Homo sapiens: one gene and its partner. The protein of the gene in region 1 interacts with the protein of each later gene in a pairwise test. Each region holds a gene or a part of one and is shown in the gene's direction. Other genes may lie near its edges.

Evidence for each region.
Region 2: the proteins of ACADM (region 1) and PANK1 interact in a two-hybrid assay, tested with the Homo sapiens proteins (one large-scale study listed by BioGRID).

What each region holds. Positions count from the first base shown.
Region 1 is NC_000001.11:75,755,520-75,759,347, forward strand, and holds part of ACADM (medium-chain specific acyl-CoA dehydrogenase, mitochondrial isoform a precursor), read left to right. Parts: intron 1-3,828. UniProt on the Homo sapiens protein: Medium-chain specific acyl-CoA dehydrogenase is one of the acyl-CoA dehydrogenases that catalyze the first step of mitochondrial fatty acid beta-oxidation, an aerobic process breaking down fatty acids into acetyl-CoA and allowing the production of energy from fats.
Region 2 is NC_000010.11:89,582,454-89,586,536, reverse strand, and holds the end of PANK1 (pantothenate kinase 1), read left to right. Parts: intron 1-2,071; coding exon 2,072-2,131; 3' UTR 2,132-3,549; downstream 3,550-4,083.

The sequences.
Region 1 (3,828 bases):
AACTCCAACAGACCTGCAGCTGAGGGTCCTGACTGATAGAAGGAAAACTAACAAACAGAAAGGACATTCACACCAAAACCGCATCTGTACGTCACCATCACCAAAGACCAAAGGTAGATAAACCCACAAAGATGGGGAGAAACCAGAGCAGAAAAGCTGAAAATTCTACAAATCAAGAGTGCCTCTTCTCCTCCAAAGGAATGCAGCTCCTCGCCAGCAACGGAAGAAAGCTGGATGGAGAATGACGAGTTGAGAGAAGAAGGCTTCAGATGATTGGTAATAACAAACTTCTCCGAGCTAAAGGAGGATACTGGCAAACTGAATCCAGCAGCACATCAAAAAGCTTATCCACCACGATCAAGTCAGCTTTCTCCCTGGGATGCAAGGCTGATTCAACATACCTTGAATCAATAAATGTAATCCATCACATACAGAACCAACGACAAAAACTTATGATTATCTCAATAGATGCAGAAAAGGCCTTCAGCAAAATTCAACAGTTCTTCATGCTAAAAACTCAATAAACTAGGTATTGATGGAATGTATCTCAAAATAATAGCTATTTATGACAAACCCACAGCCAATATCATACTGAATGGGCAAAATCTGGAAGAATTCCCTTTGAAAACTGGCACAAGACAGGGATACCTTCTCTCACCACTCCTCTTCAACATAGTGTTGGAAGCTCTGGCCAGGGCAGTCAGGCAAGAGAAGGAAATAAAGGGTATTCAGTTAGGAAAAGAGGAAGTCAAATTGTCCCTGTTTGCACATGTCATGATTGTTTATTTAGAAAACCCCATCATATCATCCCAAAATCTCCTTAAGCAGATAAGCAACTTCAGCAAAGTCTCTGGATACAAAATCAATGTGCAAAAATCACAAGCATTCCTATACACCAACAACACACAGAGAGCCAAATCATGAGTGAACTCCCATTCACAATTGCTTCAAAGAGAATAAAATACCTAGGAATACAACTTACAAGGGATGTGAAGGACCTCTTCAAGGAGAACCACAAACCACCACTCAATGAAATAAAAGAGGACACAAACAAGTGGAAGAACATTCCATGCTCATGGGTAGGAAGAATCAATATCGTGAAAATGGCCATATTGCCCAAGGTAATTTATAGATTCAGTGCCATCCCCTTCAAGCTACCAATGACTTTCTTCACAGAATTGGAAAAAACTACTTTAAAGTTCATATGGAACCAAAAAAGCCCACATTGCCCAGACAATCCTAAGCCAAAACAACAAAGATGGATGCATCATGCTACCTGACTTCAAACTATACTACAAGGCTACAGTAACCAAAACAGCATGGTACTGGTACCAAAACAGATATATAGACAAATGGAACAGAATAGAGCCCTTGGAAATAATACCACATGTCTACAACCATCTGATCTTTGACAAACCTGACAAACACAAGAAATGGGGGAAGGATTCCCTATTTAATAAATGGTGCTGGGAAAACTGGCTAGCCATATGTAGAAAGCTGAAACTGGATCCCTTCCTTACCTTATATAAAAATTAATTCAAGATGGATTAAAGACTTAAATGTTAGACCTAAAACCATAAGAACCCTAGAAGAAAACCTAGGCAGTACCATTCAGGACATAGACATGGGCAAGGACTTCATGTCTAAAACACCAGAAGCAATGGAAACAAAAGCCAAAATTGACAATTGGGATCTAATTAAACTCAAGAGTTTCTGCACAGCAAAAGAAACTACCATCAGAGTGAACAGGCAACCTACAGAATGGGAGAAAATTTTTATAATCTACCCATCTGACAAAGGGCTAATATCCAGAATCTACAATGAACTCAAACAAATTTACAAGAAAAAAATCAACCCTATCAAAAAGTGGGTGAAGGATATGAACAGACACTTCTCAAAAGAAGACATTTATGCATCCAACAGACACATGAAAAAATGCTCATCATCACTGGCCATCAGAGAAATGCAAATCAAAACCACAATGAGATACCATCTCATATCATTTAGAATGGCAATCATTAAAAAGTCAGGAAACAACAGGTGCTGGAGAGGATGTGGAGAAATAGGAATACTTTTACACTGTTGGTGGGACTGTAAACTAGTTCAACCATTGTGGAAGACAGTGTGGCAATTTCTCAAGGATCTAGAACTAGAAATGCCATTTGACCCAGCAATCCCATTGCTGGGTATATACCCAAAGGATTATAAATCATGCTGCTATAAAGACTTCTATGACCAAAGATGTAGGAGGATTTCCCACCCACACCAAGCAACAGACACTAGCTGGGTATCCTCCAACTTAGTTCTGACACTACCTACCCAGAGATAGCATCAGATCCCACAGGCTTAGTCTCACAAGACTGCCCCTTCTTTTCCCCTAGTTGCAAGTCCTGGACTCCAGAACTTCTGGCTGACTGGCTTCAAGTTGGGGTTCCCATGACCTCATCTGTGAATTCCAGTAATTTGCTAAAGCAGCTCACAGAACTCAGGGAAACACATTTACCAGTTTATTAGGAAGGATATCTAATTTTTTTACTTTTTTTTTAATTATTATTTTTTTCATACAGAGTCTCCCTCTTGTTGCCCAGGCTGGAGTGTAATGGCGTAATCTTGGCTCACTGCAACCTCTGCCTCCTGGGTTCAATTGATTCTCCTCCCTCAGCCTCCCACATAGCTGGGATTACAGGCACCTGCCACCATGCCTGGCCTTTTTTTGTTTGTTTGTTTTTTAAGTAGAGACAGGGTTTCATCATGTTGGCCAGGCTGGTCTCAAACTCCTGACCTCAGGTGATCCACCCACCTTGGCGTCCCAAAGTGCTGGGATTACAGGTGTGAGCCACCACGCCCAGCCAGGAAGGATATTTTAAAGGATACAGATGAAGAGATGTGCAGGGTAAGGTATGAGGGAAGATGCATATGGCTTCCATGCTCTCCCTGGGAATCTCACCCTGTAGGAACCTCTGGAAGCTCTCCAAACCCTGTCCTCTTGAGAGGTGAAGCCAGCTGGACTTCCTGGGTCGAGTGGGGACTTGGAGGACTTGTCTGTCTAGCTAGATGATTGTAAACACACCAATCAGCACTCTGTAAAAATGCACTAATCAGCACTCTCTGTCTAGCTAAAGGATTGTAAACACACCAATCAGTGCTCTGTAAAAATGCACCAATCAGTGCTGTGTCTAGCTAAAGGATTGTAAACTCACCAATCAGCACTGTGTAAAAATGCACGAATCAGCGCTCTGTGTCTAGCTAAAGGATTGTAAATGCACCAGTCAGCACTCTGTAAAATGGACCAACCAGCACTCTGTAAAATGGACCAATCAGCAGGATATGGGTGGGGACAAATAAGGGAATAAAAACTGGCCACCCCAGCCTGCAGCGGCAACCTGCTTTGGTCCCTTTCCACGCTGTGGAAGCTTTGTTCTTTTGCTCTTCACAATAAATCTTGCTGCTGCTTACTCTTTGGGTCCACACCACCTTTAAGAGCTGTAACACTTGCCACGGAGGTCCGCGGCTTCATTCCTGAAGTCAGCAAGACCACGAACCCACTGGAAGGAAGAAACTCTGGACACATCTGAAGGAACAAACTCCAGACACACCATCTTTAAGAGCTGTAACACCGCGAAGGTCTGTGGCTTCATTCTTGAAGTCAGCAAGACCAAGAACCCACTGGAAGGAACCAACTCTGGACACACTCTTGGGTGTTCATGGAGGCTTCATTACATAGGCATGATTAATTAAACCATTGGTCATTGATGATTTAACTTGACTTGTAGCCCCTCTCCCCTCCCTGGAGGTTGTAGGGTTGGGGCTGAAACTCCCAACCCTCTA
Region 2 (4,083 bases), on another chromosome or scaffold:
TGAAACAGGTACTTAAATACAAAATAGTTAAGGCCCAATGATAGAAATTCATACTAAAGAAAGCTCTTGTTTTTAAAGCAGACTTTAGGCATTGAGTGAGGGGGAATGAGGTCCCAGAACCTCCACTCCCTACCCCCCACAGCCAGAATACCTGATTATTTATGGAGTTTCCATGTAAGGTTTTGTTTGAAAAAGAAAAAAACATCTCAGCCTTTAAAAAAAATAATGAAAAAGGAAAAAGAAAACTCCTGTTCTAGTCCAGATAGAGTTGCCATTTTTAGCAATAAAAAATACAGGGTGCCCAGTTATTTTATCTGCCATTTATCTGTGTCTTATCTGGTAACCATAAGTCCAGATCTTCTTGGCCTAATGCAGACAACAAAGCCTGGAAACTGTCAGGGATAAAAAGTCTTCTATAACATCAGGTGGGAAGTTAGGTGGTAAGATAGGAAATAAAAGCCAACATTTTGGGGAAACTCACTTCTGTAGGTAAAAATGTAGTCGCCTATATCACCCTGTACAATCCTAAGCCTCTGTGGACTCTGGCTTTGGTTTGTTACCCTATATCATAACTCAGTCTCTATGGCCAGTGAAAATGGAGTATTCTTGTAACCCTCATAATGTGTTCCTCAGAAAATTCTCTACATTCTTAAATTCCCTCTGGCTTACGCGGGCCTTACTAGAGAATATTATGGAGAGACAACTTTTGAGAAGCACGGGTATGGTGGCTTTCTGGTCACCTGCCCTGGCCTTAGGAGTCCTCACTAAATTTCTCATTCATTCAACTAATGTTACTGAACATCTCTTAAGAGAAGTCATCTAGCCAGGTAGTTAAGAACACTGCGTTTTACTGACTGTGAGATCTTAGACAATGACTCTGTCTCTCCATTTCTGTTTTAGCATTTGTAAAATGGGGCAATTATATTTGTCTCATAGAGTTATTGTGATGGGTAAATGAGTAAATCCATGTAAAGTGCTTAGAACAACTTCTAGCATTAGTGGGGCCTCAATAAATGTAAGCAGACAGCAGCAGCAGCAGCAGCAAAGATCCATCCACATCCTGCCACACTCACACCTACTGCTGCAGTTATAACTATTGAGTTCAGCAAGTGCCAGAAGAATGGAGCCTCCTGCCTTTTGGAAACAGATTGCTGTGGACTGATTATTTGTGCCGTGACCAACTTCAAATGTCTATGTTGAAATCCTAATCTACAAAGTGATGGTATTGGGAGGTGGCCTTTGGGAGGTGATTAAGTCATGAGGGCTGAGCCTTCATGAATGGGATTAGCATCCTTATAAAAAGGTCTAAGGGAGCTCCCTTGCCCCTTCCACCACGTAATCCAGCCATGTGAGATTACAATGTGAAGACAGCTATCTGTGAGGAATGGGTCCTCACCAGACACCTTGATTTTAGACTTCCCAGCCTCTAGAACTGTGAGAAACAAATTTCTATTGTTTATAAGCCACCCAGTCTAGGGTACTTTGTTATATATAGCAGCCTGAACAAACTAACACATAGTTCTCTAAAAATTTATATTTTTTAGTTCCTTTCATTTTCATAGACGTATGGTCTTTTATTTTACAGATGGGCAAAGTAAGGCTTGGACTAATTTAAGTGCCTTTGCAAGAGCTACTGAGGGAAGTTTAGGGTTTTCTCTCATGAAATATAGCTTTAAAGTCAGACAGATTTGGTATTGAGCCCTGGTACAAGACCTGTGACCCTGCAAGGGTAATTTACTTTATTACCTTCCATTTCTCATATGTGAAATAATAGTCAGTGTTTTGCCATGACAAAGATAAAGATGAAATAGTTATAATACTAACAACCCTGGCACACACTTAGCACACATGTACCAGACATAGTTCTAAGCATTTACATATGTGAATGTATTTAATATATATAAGTAGGTGTCCAATAAATTATAGTTGTTATTATTCTGCCATGTTTTGTGACACACAATTTAGGTTTTAAATTTCTCTTTTATCGATATTAGTGGCATTCCTAGAATTATTAAAAACAATACATATTTGGCTAAGGTTCAGAGATCATCGTTTTGTATTGTTTTCGTAGGGTTATTTTGGAGCCGTTGGGGCACTGTTGGAACTGTTCAAAATGACTGATGACAAGTAGAGACGAGCAGTGGAGGAAACAGCCTCCCAAAAGGACAGAGAACTAAAAAATTGCTGCTGGAGAAGGTGAAAGTCGCTTTGGGACGGAAGCCAAGCCATTATGGCAGATGAACCTGCTGGATTTGTAAATAATTTAAAATCCTTCCAGATGATCTTTTACTCTTAGGTTTTGAGCTAATGATTCAAAACGGGGGAATATAAAAGGTTTTTTTTCTGTATACTGTATTTTTTTAAAAAAATGGTGCAGCGTGGCCAAACCTACCAATTGTATGCATTAACTTTGAAAAGTTGTTTGATGTTTAAGAAGGACCTGATATGTAAGCGCTGGTCATTTTTCTTCTGGGGTTTACTGATCAGTGTGGTGATTTTAACTTCATTTAGTAATTACTCTAGGAGATTTTACCTTGACTTATATTTTTCATGACGTTTCATGATTTGCTGTTGGTTTCAAATGAAACTACAAATCTGGCATGTTTTACTGTGAACACTTTTGTTATTTGTTTTGTACCCTTTTTTGTCTTGTTTTTCTGTTTTAGTTGTCTTCTGAAAAAAGAGTCGTTCCCTCTGTTTCTGTCCTCAGATGATGTCCCTCCCCCTACCTGTAACCTTTCTTTGACATAATTGTTCATATCAATGAAGGTGCTGACCAGCTCAATACAAAGTTAAGCACAAGATCTAAAGCTCTTGAAAATGCCCGTGAAGAGAAGACTGAATGTGTTAATGAATTTAATGAGTCTGGCAAAAGTTGCAAATTATATGCAAGTTTGTCCTATCGCTTATAAATGTAGTGTTTCATTGGATTTATTTTATGCTAGGTTATATTAAGTTGAAATAGTCTGTGATTAAATGTCCTCATCCATGCACAGAATATGAATGGCAGCAAATCTTTGTGCAAGAAATTTGAAACTTATTGGGAAAAGCCTCCCAGTAGATTAATTGTTCATATCAGGAGATTTAGGGTAAGTCATGGGTTGAGGTGTCAGATAGTAATATCTATTTGTTTTGTACATGTATATATCTAGGAACTTTGTAACAACACATCTTTAATAATGTTAAAGGTTTTTTCATTTTTAATATTTTAAACTAAAAACTGTACTTCAATCTCAGTTTCTAAAATTAAAAATAATTTATACTGATCTATATATTTTTTCTTTTTGAAAGATTTCATTAAGACTGATGGGTAACTTTCAAATGAGGGTCATGTACAAATATTGGGATGCATGAGATCCCATGATCTTGTGTATTGAGCTTATTGTTGAAAGGGATTTTTGAAGGACAGAACAATTACTCCATGATGAATCTTCCTTTCTCTGCCTTCTGAGCACCGTCTTTAATTTCCATATCTTCAAGTCTTGAAGAAGTTGATGTTAATTGAAGAATTCACTTGTCTGGTTGAAATAAAGCCTGTTTCTGTTGTGATGTTTTTAGTGTATATGTTATTTTCATTTCTTAATTCTCATGTTTATAGTATCTGCTTTGTACCATGAAATGACTGTCTGTTGTGTTTTTGCTACTCTACATTTCAAAATTGGAGGCTTTCCCATGAGTGTGGTATGGTCCAAAACACTGTCTTCAGGTGAAGCTGTAGCCCTATGCATAGATTTTTAAAATAGAGCTTTATTGTTTCTATACAAGTGACTCCTTAATGCCAACTACCTCTGCTATATTTGGTAATTCCAAAGGAGTTTCAAAATTTGGTCATCACAGATACATTTTACCAACTTCTATCTGGCTTTAAAAAAATTCAGACAGCTAAAGTGTTCTTGAAAAGGATAAGTTAAAAATCTACATATTATTTATAATTAGTGCCTTTTGATGGCCTCTTCTATTCCTATTCTCATCTATCAGGTAACAGCAGACCTTGATTCCGCAGATCATGGTTCTACAAAGGAAATCAGGGCAAGTTAGTGTGACTGTATTTTTTTTAATTATCTGAAATCACTTGATCTCTCA